Linked DNA regions of Homo sapiens. The protein of the gene in region 2 purifies or fractionates together with the protein of the main gene of each other region. This does not show direct contact. Each region holds a gene or a part of one and is shown on either strand. Other genes may lie near its edges.

The links. Proteins that work in one complex are often made in the same cells at the same time.
Region 1: the proteins of MLF1 (region 2) and SYNRG purify together in Homo sapiens (affinity purification with mass spectrometry; 4 studies listed by BioGRID and IntAct, with this or other methods). This does not show direct contact.
Region 3: the proteins of MLF1 (region 2) and ALMS1 purify together in Homo sapiens (affinity purification with mass spectrometry; 4 studies listed by BioGRID and IntAct, with this or other methods). This does not show direct contact.
Region 4: the proteins of MLF1 (region 2) and PRKACB purify together in Homo sapiens (affinity purification with mass spectrometry; 3 studies listed by BioGRID and IntAct, with this or other methods). This does not show direct contact.

The regions. Positions count from the first base shown.
Region 1 is NC_000017.11:37,550,419-37,553,918, forward strand, and holds part of SYNRG (synergin gamma), read right to left. Parts: coding exon 2,697-3,500; intron 1-2,696. UniProt on the Homo sapiens protein: Plays a role in endocytosis and/or membrane trafficking at the trans-Golgi network (TGN). May act by linking the adapter protein complex AP-1 to other proteins. Component of clathrin-coated vesicles.
Region 2 is NC_000003.12:158,577,694-158,581,193, reverse strand, and holds part of MLF1 (myeloid leukemia factor 1), read right to left. Parts: intron 1-3,500. UniProt on the Homo sapiens protein: Involved in lineage commitment of primary hemopoietic progenitors by restricting erythroid formation and enhancing myeloid formation.
Region 3 is NC_000002.12:73,448,336-73,451,835, forward strand, and holds part of ALMS1 (centrosome-associated protein ALMS1), read left to right. Parts: coding exon 1-3,500. UniProt on the Homo sapiens protein: Involved in PCM1-dependent intracellular transport. Required, directly or indirectly, for the localization of NCAPD2 to the proximal ends of centrioles.
Region 4 is NC_000001.11:84,234,771-84,238,270, forward strand, and holds part of PRKACB (cAMP-dependent protein kinase catalytic subunit beta), read left to right. Parts: intron 1-409; coding exon 410-535; 3' UTR 536-3,500. UniProt on the Homo sapiens protein: Mediates cAMP-dependent signaling triggered by receptor binding to GPCRs.

The DNA.
Region 1 (3,500 bases), on a different chromosome or scaffold from region 2:
ACTATTGCTTTAAACTTGGTATCAGCCAGGTATTTCTTTGGTCTAACCCTGAAAAAGTACAAATTACACACATCCCCACACTTTCAAAATATGCCAAAGAATTATTTATTAACACAAGACTTACAGATCACAAAAGAGAGTGATACAGAAGAGCTGGAAAAGAAGTCATCAGAATAAGCATGCAGATCAGTATTTGCAGAGGAATATACTAAAGTAAATTTGAAGGCACATTCACACAGAAAATGTCTAAATTGAAAAAAAGACATCAGAAAAGCAGCCAAAAAAAAAAAAAGGTGCTAATTAAAATACAAAGATTTTCAATGTCAAAGAAGAGCTACTTTACAGATAGGTAGGTAGGTAGCTACAGAAGTCTTGCTAACCCTTTGAAAATGTCACAGATGAGGGTCAGCTCTTGCTGCCAATAAAACCATATGATTTTAATGACTGCACGTCAAGATGCTTCAGTGCCGCAGATTAAATTTAGTCAGGGGGAAAAAACAGCCTAGTTGAAATTATATGCAGCAAGGCCTCAAAGGGTTAAATGTAATAATACGCAGAGAAATCAGGCAATGTTATCAGTATTATCTACCTTCCATACAAATGATTATAGCAAGAGTTAAAAGAGACAGTATCCCCTTCAGAGTTAAGTTAGGGCTTCTAAACAGGATTAAGGTCCGCAGATAGCAATCTACCAGGTTTTATTCTCTCTTCATCAGCTCACTTCTTATTTCTCCAACAAGAAGTACCTTTAACCCTCAAACTAAGAGAGCAAGAGATACTGTGGTGAACATGAGGATAAAATAAAACTACATTACTTTGAATAAGTCCTTGCCATTTACCCTCTACAATACATTGATGCAGCAATTTTGCACAACAGCAATATAGCGCATTGGTCAGACATCAACCCCTTTTAACAACCGCTCTAAAGGGATACTGCTCCTTTCTGACAGGAGGTTTACAGATCAATGGGAGGAAACAATCTGCTTTTAAGAATATCCTCCAACTGAAGAGTTAGCTTGAACATTACAGGCTCCAAGCTGAGGATGTTCCAAACATACATAAAAGAACATGAGCACAGAAGATTATTTTAACAGGTCAGTAAGAACAAGCTTGGTCAAAAAAACCAACCTCCAAATAAAATGGGGGAAAAAAAAAGACACCCCAAACCCGGATTAGCCTCATTTCATAAAGACATCTACCTTGGCACTGTGAAAGAATATAGATTCACTTTCAGAAAAATAGTTTCTAATTAATAACTTCAGAGTCCAAAAGGCTAGTATACATGTTATGAGATTTTTAAATAAAAATCCAATATTGTTCAGAAAACAGAGCACTTTGCAACCAACTGCTGTGGTTCAAGCAGCTCATAAAAAAAAAAAACCAACAAAACAAAACCCACAATCACTCTATCAAACAAACAGCAGCAAAAAAATAAGAAAATTTCTGAGGAAAAGTACAAAAAAAAAAAAAAAGACAGAAAGTAGACAGTCAAGGGCACAGGAGCTCTTCAGACCGCCCACTGCATTTGAAAAATACCTTAGCAAGTAGCAACATGAAACATGCAATGTCTCTGCTAACTTGCTCCTGATTCAGCAGCCTGTTTAGCAATACCTACAACATTTCCATAACCAAAGGATGGATGCAATTTTGTTTTCCGACTTGCCAATTTGACATATGCAAAAGCTATAGGACTTTACAATTTCTGCCTGAATCTGTAAACTTGGAAGTGTCTCACGTGTCCCCCCTAGTTAGACAAAACCAAATCCTTCATATGCATAATACATTTTCTAGAATAATACAGTGATACTGAGATATTTCTCATTATTAAAAGGCCACAAAATAGGTTTATCTTTCTATATACATATCAAAAAACAAAACAAAAGAAAAACCAGGACACTTGGGAATCTAGTTTTTATGACAGAAGTTGAACTAGAGAGTAAATTGCTACATGTAAATCTACACAGAATTTAAAGAGGGCTCCCTAATAAGATGTTTTCAAACATTTTATCAGAAAGTTAGCAGTTACCCTATCCTAGCATCTACAGATTTGTTACAACTTAATATTTCCAGTAATAGAGTTAACACTGAAAACAGCTCCTGGATTCCACTGACAACACACACCCTCCTCTTTGCCAGGCCCTGACATACAGAACATTCATATATAAACTCTTTCCCTCTTCTTCTCTTAAAAGGATGTGGCAAACTGCACTACAAGTGGTTAGAAATTTTTACTTTCTTGACCTAACAAGAGTTAATTTCTGTAAATCAAACAGAATACTATACTGGCAGTTGCTGTGTATACCCAAGAGAAGAAAAAAGGAGAGGGAAACACTGATTTTACTCACAGAAATGAAGGAACACTGCCGGCACTGCAAAGGTCTTTATCAAATTTCTGGCAATGTGAGGTTCACTTAGCAGTGACTTTTTATGTGCCTCTAACACCAAGCTGGTGCTAGATTTCAAAAATAAAAATATCTTAGCTACCCAATCTAAGTTCCACAGTAGCCATAGTATCCATATCAAGTATCCATAGAATCAAATTTAACACTGCTTTAAGGAGACTGGCAATAAAGAGGTTGATTATTAGAGATTCATAAAGCTAAAGGGCCAGAGCCTTACTCATGTAAATCAACACCCGCAGAATCATCTTTGAAATCTACAACACCATCACCAGAGCAATCTCACCAATTCCTCACCTGCAGCAGGAGGATGCTGGCCACTAACTGTTGGTAAATCCAAAGAGCTATCAGACATGACATGCTTAAGATCTCCTCCCACATCAGCCAATTTCATGTCAAACTGAACAGAGAGTGCATCTTCAGAGTCCTCCTTGCCAACACTGCTGCCACCAATGGAAGGGAGATCTAAGGACTTCACTGATGCAGAGTCTTCTTTGGTGTGTCTGAAAGCCACTGCTTTCTCTCCCAGGGATTTGTCCGAGTTTATGGAAGAAAATTTACTGGAGTGGAAGTCAGCAAAATCATCATCACTTTTTCCTGAAGGAGTGTTATCTTTCAGGTCTTCAACACCTAGTCCAGACCCTTCCAGAGAAAGTTGTCTGAAGACATCGTACTTGGTAGACGCAGCAGTCGAGTTTTGTCCACCCTTCACTGTGCTGCCCACGTTGCTGGTTAGAGGAACAGGACTGGCTTCCTCTTTAAGGGCATCATATTTGTCATCCGGCTTTTGCTCAGATGAAATAGAGCTATTACTGAAAGCCATAAAATCTGCAAAGTCATCCTGCTCCCCAACAGGTGCTAGACCAGAATATTCCCCAAAAAGGCTGAATTCTCCAAAATCATCAGCCAAACTAGAAGTTTTTGTTGCTGCCAATGCTGTCATAGTAGCAGCAGAACCTGTTGACTGTGGTGTAGAAACTGATTTTGATGTGCTAAACACAGCTGAAAAAGACAATGGTTTCTCGCTGCTGCAATTAACTGAGGAAAACATATCTAGGTCTGCTAAGTTCAGAGGGTTTTTCACTTGTGTTTGTTGTTTCT
Region 2 (3,500 bases):
TAATTTGTCAACTACAGGTCAGGTTTTCCTACTACCCTCGCACTGGTTCCTGAAGAGGTTTCTGCACCAGTTAAGTTGTGATTCTCTCTATCTGCCTATCTCCAATTATGGGGGCAGAGATTTGCCCTGTGACCTCGATTCTCTGCTATATACAAGAAAAGTTGTTTTCTCAGGTTGTTCAGTTTTTAATTTGTTATTAGCGTGAAGTGGTAACCTTAAGCTTCTTACATGGCATATTATTATTTTGAGACAGAGTTTCATTCTGTCAGCTGGAGTGCAATGTGGCATGTTCATGGCTCACTGCAGCTTTGACCTCCTAAGCTCAATTGATCCTCCCACCTCAGCCTCCTTAGCTGGGACTATAGGCGTGCACTACCATGCCTGGATAATTTTTTTTTTTTTTTTTCTGGTAGAGACAGGATTTTGCCATGTTGCTCAGGCTGGTCTCGAGCTCCTGGGCTCTGCCCGTTTCAGCATCCCAAAGTGCTGGGATTACAGGTGTGAGCAACCATGCCCAGCCACATACCAGATTCTTGTAGGATTTTTAGTATGAGTTTTTGTCTTGAGGGGCAAAGGAAATTTAAGACTACCATTCCTAGATTTCCTACCTGTTAAAAGTTTGAGAATCACTATTCTAGCAAAATTATATGCAACAAGCACTATAAAGAAGTTGTGACAATTTATAAATTAATTTTAATTTAAAATCTCAGTGTGTACAGATCAATAGTACACACGGAGCAGCTCATGTTTTAGCACACTAGAAGGCAGAAAGGGAGTCGTTTTTTGTTTTCCAAAATCAGATTATGAAGAACAAAATTACTTTAAAATTAGTAATTCAAAATTTGGCATACGTATCACTCTACTTTTTTTTTCCACCTCACAAAATCTTTCTTTTTTTTTTTTAAGTTCCGGGGTACATGTGCAGGATGTGCAGGTTTGTTACATAGGTGAACATGTGCCATGGTGGTTTGCTACACGTATCAACCCATCACCTAGGTATTAAGTCCAGTATGCATTAGCCATTTTTCCTAATGCTCTCCCTACTTCCACCCCACTCTACTTTTTATTTGAAGGTACAGAGTTTCAAGTAGTTCTAAAATGCACAAATGAGTTACCCATGGAACATTTTCTAACTCCTACCTCAAAAACCAGATTATTCCAAAGTATTCGTTATACCTTTGCAGTATGTTTGAAATATTTCATAATAAATGTAACTGCATGAGGTTAAAGGATTTCATACCATTTGATGTTTTAAAACAGGCATTTCAAAAGGAGGTCCTTTTGCTTACAGCTCCAAACTCACTGGACATTTACAGCTTAGAGTATGGTTAAAGTATGGAGACTAAAATGCTTGTTCCTATTAATATATACTTACTTAGGAAAACCAGTCAACTTTTCCTTTAGATATGTAGATGTGATTTGACTACAATGAAGAAAAGTATTTCAAGAAATACTAAATTTGTTCTTTGAATAAGGGAGTGCTAAACAGCTATTACTTTTCTACAGAATCAAAATTTAGTAAAATTAATTTTTCTCATTGCATTATAATTGGGCTAAAAATTAATCAACAAAATATGGCTCATTTAAAATTTGCCTGGGTTTTTCTTTCTTTATATAGAAGTAGGGGAATATTTAAATGTTTATTTGAATATGTGTATGTTCAGCAAATGCTAAAAATTTTATCTTTCTGAGTGACATGAACAAATGACTGCCTGTTGGAAGATGCACTAAACAAAAGCGAGCCTATAGTCTGGTGTTTGCAACTGTCTGAACCATTCAGGAAGAAATCTGGCTGAAACTTCTAGTGAGTTTAATTCATGTCTACCCAGAAAGGCAGCTGCTTGGAGATAAGGCTTTAATGTTTCTCTTGTCCAAGTTTGAATTCACTTTTATCAAAACTAAAAAAATTCTATGGTAGCACACAGTTGTTTTAATATTTTTAAAATTAACCTAGGCTTTTTTTCTCAAATGAAAAATTTTAGCCCATTCATAATGTTCTCTTTTGAAAATAAAATTTCATTCTTCTAGGAAAACAAATTGGAAATAGGAGGTTTTAAAAAGGTCATGCTATACAAACTAGTCATTTCATGTACACAAAGAGTCTAAGGTAATAATTTGAAAATGTTGTTAAAGATTTATGTGAGAAATATGCTTTGTATGTTCATAGGGTGCAATATTTTGCAGACTCTAAAGTCATGCTTTAGTGAATATCTAAAGACCAGGAAAACGTTCATGGTATATGTTGCAGAAAAGCATTGAATAATTAACCATAAAGTGTGGTCCGAATTTTGGAAAATAAAAATCCACATGTGGACATCTGAAACAAAATACATCAAAATAATGGGTTGTATTATTTCTGCTACCAAACTTTCTATACTTTTCAGATTTTCCATGAGGATGTATTTTCATTTAGGTCAAGAAAAATGTACTTTTACTCACTGATGACTATATACCTCCTCTCTTAGAATTGCTCACACAAACCACAACCAAACTGAATAAACTTTGGTCTCAAACGTACTTTTTCTATTCTATATTATTTACCTTCAGCATATATCACAAGGCAGGAAAAATAAATTGTTGCCTACTTCCCCTTCAAAAGTGTTTATGTCTTAACTCTTAGATTGATTCCAGGTCACTTGGGAATGATTTCAACATAGTGTGTACGTGTGTGTGTGTGTGTGTGTGTGTTTGTATGTATGTATGTACATACGTACATACATGTGTTTAAGGGCTGGTAATGTCTCCCTTTAGAATAATTTATTGTTTTTAAAACTCTCTCAAATACATATGTACACACACACACACACACACACTTATTTTGCCTAAGTTACACTTCTTTTTCATCTATATAAGAATATAGATACTTGTGCTTCTAAGCAAAGAGCATTACCTATTACATAAGGTTCTCAGATAACTGACATGGCAGGCTCACTCATTAAGGGAAATTCCTCCCTTCCATTATACATGGTAGTGGCAAAAGCTTAGCCAGCAGATGGTTATGGTTCTCTTGATCATAAAGAAATGTTCCCTAGTTTCAATGAGGTAGACTGGTCTATAAGGAAAATAGACCAGAAGATCCATGTTTTGATACTAGAAATAATGCATGTAACATTCAAAGAAGGATCTTGAGGGCAGGAACCAAGACATCTAAAAATTTAAAAGAGAACCCACAGGGTTCGGCCTATAGTAGAAACTGAAGAAATATTTAAAGAATGAATTACATTTTTATTAAGCAATTCTATTTTTCCATTGTCTTGAAGTACAAAGTGTTGGTGTGGCAAAAGCCTTTGATATCAAAAAAATTGTGGAAATGATTATGCTCCCCTGATATTCTATAAATAGTTCACTCCTTTTTCATGGATATTTACAATATTAATTGGCAGAAGTAGGAATTATCTTGTGGGTACATGCTACTGTATGGCATTTTTGACCCAGCAACCATGTCCTAGTCATGCTGTGTTCCTGGGCTCCTAATTCAGTGGTGTTTACCTCATGAACCA
Region 3 (3,500 bases), on a different chromosome or scaffold from region 2:
TGCTCCTGGACTAGCTGACCAGACAACTGGCATGTCAACTCTAACCTCTACTTCCTACTCACATAGAGAGAAGCCTGGTACTTTTTACCAACAAGAGTTACCAGAGAGTAACTTAACCGAAGAGCCTTTGGAAGTTTCAGCTGCTCCTGGCCCAGTGGAGCAGAAGACGGGAATACCTACAGTATCCTCTACATCCCACTCACATGTAGAGGACCTCCTCTTTTTCTATCGACAGACCTTGCCAGATGGTCATCTAACTGATCAGGCTCTGAAAGTCTCAGCTGTGTCTGGACCAGCTGACCAGAAGACTGGGACAGCAACAGTACTCTCTACTCCCCACTCACATAGAGAGAAGCCTGGTATTTTTTACCAACAAGAGTTCGCAGACAGTCATCAAACTGAAGAGACTCTTACTAAAGTTTCAGCCACTCCTGGACCAGCTGACCAGAAGACTGAGATACCAGCAGTACAGTCTAGTTCTTACTCACAAAGAGAAAAGCCTAGTATTTTGTACCCACAGGACTTAGCAGACAGTCATCTACCTGAAGAGGGTCTGAAAGTTTCAGCTGTTGCTGGACCAGCTGACCAGAAGACTGGCCTACCAACAGTACCCTCTAGTGCATACTCACACAGAGAGAAGCTCCTTGTTTTCTACCAACAGGCCTTGCTGGACAGCCATCTACCCGAAGAGGCTCTGAAAGTTTCAGCTGTTTCTGGACCAGCTGACGGAAAGACTGGGACACCAGCTGTAACCTCTACTTCCTCTGCGTCCTCTTCACTTGGAGAAAAGCCCAGTGCTTTCTATCAGCAGACCTTACCCAATAGTCATCTAACTGAAGAGGCTCTGAAAGTATCAATTGTTCCTGGACCAGGTGATCAGAAGACTGGGATACCCTCAGCACCATCTAGTTTCTACTCACACAGAGAGAAGCCCATTATTTTTTCCCAGCAGACCCTGCCAGACTTTCTTTTCCCTGAAGAAGCTCTGAAGGTTTCAGCTGTTTCTGTATTGGCTGCCCAGAAGACTGGGACACCAACAGTGTCCTCTAATTCTCACTCACATAGCGAGAAATCTAGTGTTTTCTACCAGCAAGAGTTGCCAGACAGTGATCTACCTAGAGAATCTCTGAAAATGTCTGCTATTCCTGGACTGACTGACCAGAAGACTGTCCCAACACCAACAGTACCTTCAGGTTCCTTCTCACATAGAGAGAAGCCCAGTATTTTCTATCAACAGGAGTGGCCAGATAGTTATGCAACTGAAAAGGCTCTGAAAGTTTCAACTGGCCCTGGACCAGCTGACCAGAAGACTGAGATACCAGCAGTACAGTCTAGTTCTTACCCACAGAGGGAGAAGCCTAGTGTTTTGTACCCACAGGTGTTATCAGACAGTCATCTACCTGAAGAGAGTCTGAAAGTTTCAGCCTTCCCTGGACCAGCTGACCAGATGACTGACACACCAGCAGTACCGTCTACTTTCTACTCACAAAGAGAGAAGCCTGGTATTTTCTACCAACAGACCTTGCCAGAGAGTCATCTGCCTAAAGAGGCTCTGAAAATTTCAGTAGCTCCTGGACTAGCAGACCAGAAGACTGGCACACCAACTGTAACCTCAACTTCCTACTCACAACATAGAGAAAAGCCCAGCATTTTCCACCAGCAGGCCTTGCCAGGTACTCATATACCTGAAGAGGCTCAGAAAGTTTCAGCTGTTACTGGACCAGGTAACCAGAAGACTTGGATACCAAGAGTACTTTCTACCTTCTACTCACAAAGAGAGAAACCTGGTATTTTCTATCAACAGACCTTGCCAGGTAGTCACATACCTGAAGAGGCACAGAAAGTTTCACCTGTTCTTGGACCAGCTGACCAGAAGACTGGGACACCAACTCCAACCTCTGCTTCTTACTCACACACAGAGAAGCCTGGTATTTTCTACCAACAGGTCTTGCCAGATAATCATCCAACTGAAGAGGCTCTGAAAATTTCAGTTGCCTCTGAACCAGTTGACCAGACAACTGGCACACCAGCTGTAACCTCTACTTCCTACTCACAATATAGAGAGAAGCCCAGCATTTTCTACCAACAGTCGTTGCCAAGTAGTCATCTAACTGAAGAGGCTAAGAATGTTTCAGCGGTTCCTGGACCAGCTGACCAGAAGACTGTGATACCAATTTTACCCTCTACTTTCTACTCACACACAGAGAAGCCTGGTGTTTTCTACCAACAGGTCTTGCCACATAGTCATCCAACTGAAGAGGCTCTGAAAATTTCAGTTGCCTCTGAACCAGTTGACCAGACAACTGGCACACCAACTGTAACCTCTACTTCTTACTCACAACATACAGAGAAGCCGAGTATTTTCTACCAACAGTCGTTGCCAGGTAGTCATCTAACTGAAGAGGCTAAGAACGTTTCAGCGGTTCCTGGACCAGGTGACCGGAAGACTGGGATACCAACTTTACCCTCTACTTTCTACTCACACACAGAGAAGCCTGGTAGTTTCTACCAACAGGTCTTGCCACATAGTCATCTACCTGAAGAGGCTTTGGAAGTTTCAGTTGCTCCTGGACCAGTTGACCAGACGATTGGCACACCAACTGTAACCTCCCCTTCCAGCTCATTTGGAGAGAAGCCCATTGTTATCTACAAACAGGCCTTTCCAGAGGGTCATCTACCTGAAGAGTCTCTGAAAGTTTCAGTTGCTCCTGGACCAGTTGGCCAGACAACTGGCGCACCAACTATAACCTCTCCTTCCTACTCACAACATAGAGCAAAGTCTGGCAGTTTCTACCAACTGGCATTGCTAGGTAGTCAAATACCTGAAGAGGCTCTCAGAGTTTCTTCTGCTCCTGGACCAGCTGACCAGACAACTGGCATACCAACCATAACCTCTACTTCCTACTCATTTGGAGAGAAGCCGATTGTTAACTACAAACAGGCCTTTCCAGATGGTCATCTACCTGAAGAGGCTCTGAAAGTTTCCATTGTTTCTGGACCTACTGAAAAAAAGACTGACATACCAGCAGGACCTTTAGGTTCCAGTGCACTTGGAGAGAAGCCCATTACTTTCTACCGGCAGGCTCTGCTAGACAGTCCTCTAAATAAAGAGGTTGTGAAAGTTTCAGCTGCTCCTGGACCAGCTGACCAGAAGACTGAGACATTACCAGTACATTCTACTAGCTACTCAAATAGGGGGAAGCCTGTCATTTTCTACCAGCAGACCCTATCAGACAGTCATTTACCTGAAGAAGCTCTGAAAGTTCCACCTGTTCCTGGACCAGATGCCCAGAAGACTGAGACACCATCAGTATCCTCTAGTTTATACTCATATAGAGAGAAGCCCATTGTCTTCTACCAACAGGCCCTGCCAGACAGTGAGCTAACTCAAGAAGCTCTGAAAGTTTCAGCTGTTCCTCAACCAGCTGACCAGAAGACTGGGTTATCTACTGTAACTTCCTCTTTCTATTCACATACAGAGAAGCCTAATATTTCTTACC
Region 4 (3,500 bases), on a different chromosome or scaffold from region 2:
GCTCGCACACGGTGCGTGCACCCACTGACCTGCGCCCACTGTCTGGCACTCCCTAGTGAGATGAACCTGGTACCTCAGATGGAAATGCAGAAATCACCCGTCTTCTGTGTCCCTCACGCTGGGAGCTGTAGACCGTACCTGTTCCTATTCGGCCATCTTGGCTTCTCCTCTTATCCCAGAAATTTCTTAAGTATTTTGTTGACCTGCATACTTCCTTGAATCAAAATGTTGAGGTTAATAGCTAACCTACTGCTTGCTGCTTCTTCTAGCACTATTATATTTTAGGAACCTAATGGCATCTAAGGATTTCACCGTGTAATAACAGTGGGAATTTATTTTTCTTGGTGTTTGGAAACTCTCAGGAATTTTTTTTTCCTTTTTCTTATTTTTCTCTCCCTCTCAATTATAGGTTGAAGCTCCATTCATACCAAAGTTTAGAGGCTCTGGAGATACCAGCAACTTTGATGACTATGAAGAAGAAGATATCCGTGTCTCTATAACAGAAAAATGTGCAAAAGAATTTGGTGAATTTTAAAGAGGAACAAGATGACATCTGAGCTCACACTCAGTGTTTGCACTCTGTTGAGAGATAAGGTAGAGCTGAGACCGTCCTTGTTGAAGCAGTTACCTAGTTCCTTCATTCCAACGACTGAGTGAGGTCTTTATTGCCATCATCCCGTGTGCGCACTCTGCATCCACCTATGTAACAAGGCACCGCTAAGCAAGCATTGTCTGTGCCATAACACAGTACTAGACCACTTTCTTACTTCTCTTTGGGTTGTCTTTCTCCTCTCCTATATCCATTTCTTCCTTTTCCAATTTCATTGGTTTTCTCTAAACAGTGCTCCATTTTATTTTGTTGGTGTTTCAGATGGGCAGTGTTATGGCTACGTGATATTTGAAGGGAAGGATAAGTGTTGCTTTCAGTAGTTATTGCCAATATTGTTGTTGGTCAATGGCTTGAAGATAAACTTTCTAATAATTATTATTTCTTTGAGTAGCTCAGACTTGGTTTTGCCAAAACTCTTGGTAATTTTTGAAGATAGACTGTCTTATCACCAAGGAAATTTATACAAATTAAGACTAACTTTCTTGGAATTCACTATTCTGGCAATAAATTTTGGTAGACTAATACAGTACAGCTAGACCCAGAAATTTGGAAGGCTGTAGATCAGAGGTTCTAGTTCCCTTTCCCTCCTTTTATATCCTCCTCTCCTTGAGTAATGAAGTGACCAGCCTGTGTAGTGTGACAAACGTGTCTCATTCAGCAGGAAAAACTAATGATATGGATCATCACCCAGATTCTCTCACTTGGTACCAGCATTTCTGTAGGTATTAGAGAAGAGTTCTAAGTTTTCTAAACCTTAACTGTTCCTTAAGGATTTTAGCCAGTATTTTAATAGAACATGATTAATGAAAGTGACAAATTTTAAATTTTCTCTAATAGTCCTCATCATAAACTTTTTAAAGGAAAATAAGCAAACTAAAAAGAACATTGGTTTAGATAAATACTTATACTTTGCAAAGTCAAAAATGGCTTGATTTTTGGAAACAATATAGAGGTATTCATATTTAAATGAGGGTTTACATTTGTTTTGTTTTGTAACCGTTAAAAAGAAGTTGTTTCCAGCTAATTATTGTGGTGTACTATATTTGTGAGCCTAGGGTAGGGGCACTGCTGCAACTTCTGCTTTCATCCCATGCCTCATCAATGAGGAAAGGGAACAAAGTGTATAAAACTGCCACAATTGTATTTTAATTTTGAGGTATGATATTTTCAGATATTTCATAATTTCTAACCTCTGTTCTCTCAGTAAACAGAATGTCTGATCGATCATGCAGATACAATGTTGGTATTTGAGAGGTTAGTTTTTTTCCTACACTTTTTTTTGCCAACTGACTTAACAACATTGCTGTCAGGTGGAAATTTCAAGCACTTTTGCACATTTAGTTCAGTGTTTGTTGAGAATCCATGGCTTAACCCACTTGTTTTGCTATTTTTTTCTTTGCTTTTAATTTTCCCCATCTGATTTTATCTCTGCGTTTCAGTGACCTACCTTAAAACAACACACGAGAAGAGTTAAACTGGGTTCATTTTAATGATCAATTTACCTGCATATAAAATTTATTTTTAATCAAGCTGATCTTAATGTATATAATCATTCTATTTGCTTTATTATCGGTGCAGGTAGGTCATTAACACCACTTCTTTTCATCTGTACCACACCCTGGTGAAACCTTTGAAGACATAAAAAAAACCTGTCTGAGATGTTCTTTCTACCAATCTATATGTCTTTCGGTTATCAAGTGTTTCTGCATGGTAATGTCATGTAAATGCTGATATTGATTTCACTGGTCCATCTATATTTAAAACGTGCAAGAAAAAAATAAAATACTCTGCTCTAGCAAGTTTTGTGTAACAAAGGCATATCGTCATGTTAATAAATTTAAAACATCATTCGTATAAAATATTTTAATTTTCTTGTATTTCATTTAGACCCAAGAACATGCTGACCAATGTGTTCTATATGTAAACTACAAATTCTATGGTAGCTTTGTTGTATATTATTGTAAAATTATTTTAATAAGTCATGGGGATGACAATTTGATTATTACAATTTAGTTTTCAGTAATCAAAAAGATTTCTATGAATTCTAAAAAATATTTTTTTCTATGAAATTACTAGTGCCCAGCTGTAGAATCTACCTTAGGTAGATGATCCCTAGACATACGTTGGTTTTGAGGGCTATTCAGCCATTCCATTTTACTCTCTATTTAAAGGCCGTGAGCAAGCTTGTCATGAGCAAATATGTCAAGGGAGTCAATTTCTGACCAATCAAGTACACTAAATTAGAATATTTTTAAAGTATGTAACATTCCCAGTTTCAGCCACAATTTAGCCAAGAATAAGATAAAAACTTGAATAAGAAGTAAGTAGCATAAATCAGTATTTAACCTAAAATTACATATTTGAAACAGAAGATATTATGTTATGCTCAGTAAATAATTAAGAGATGGCATTGTGTAAGAAGGAGCCCTAGACTGAAAGTCAAGACATCTGAATTTCAGGCTGGAAAACTATCAGTATGATCTCAGCCTCAGTTCTCTTGTCTGTAAAATGGAAGAACTGGATTAGGCAGTTTGTAAGATTCCTCCTAACTTTCACAGTCGATGACAAGATTGTCTTTTTATCTGATATTTTGAAGGGTATATTGCTTTGAAGTAAGTCTCAATAAGGCAATATATTTTAGGGCATCTTTCTTCTTATCTCTGACAGTGTTCTTAAAATTATTTGAATATCATAAGAGCCTTGGTGTCTGTCCTAATTCCTTTCTCACTCACCGATGCTGAATACCCAGTTGAATCAAACTGTCAACCTACCAAAAACGATATTGTGGCTTATGGGTATTGCTGTCTCATTCTTGGTATATTCTTGTGTTAACTGCCCATTGGCCTGAAAATACTCATTGTAAGCCTGAAAAAAAAAATCTTTCCCACTG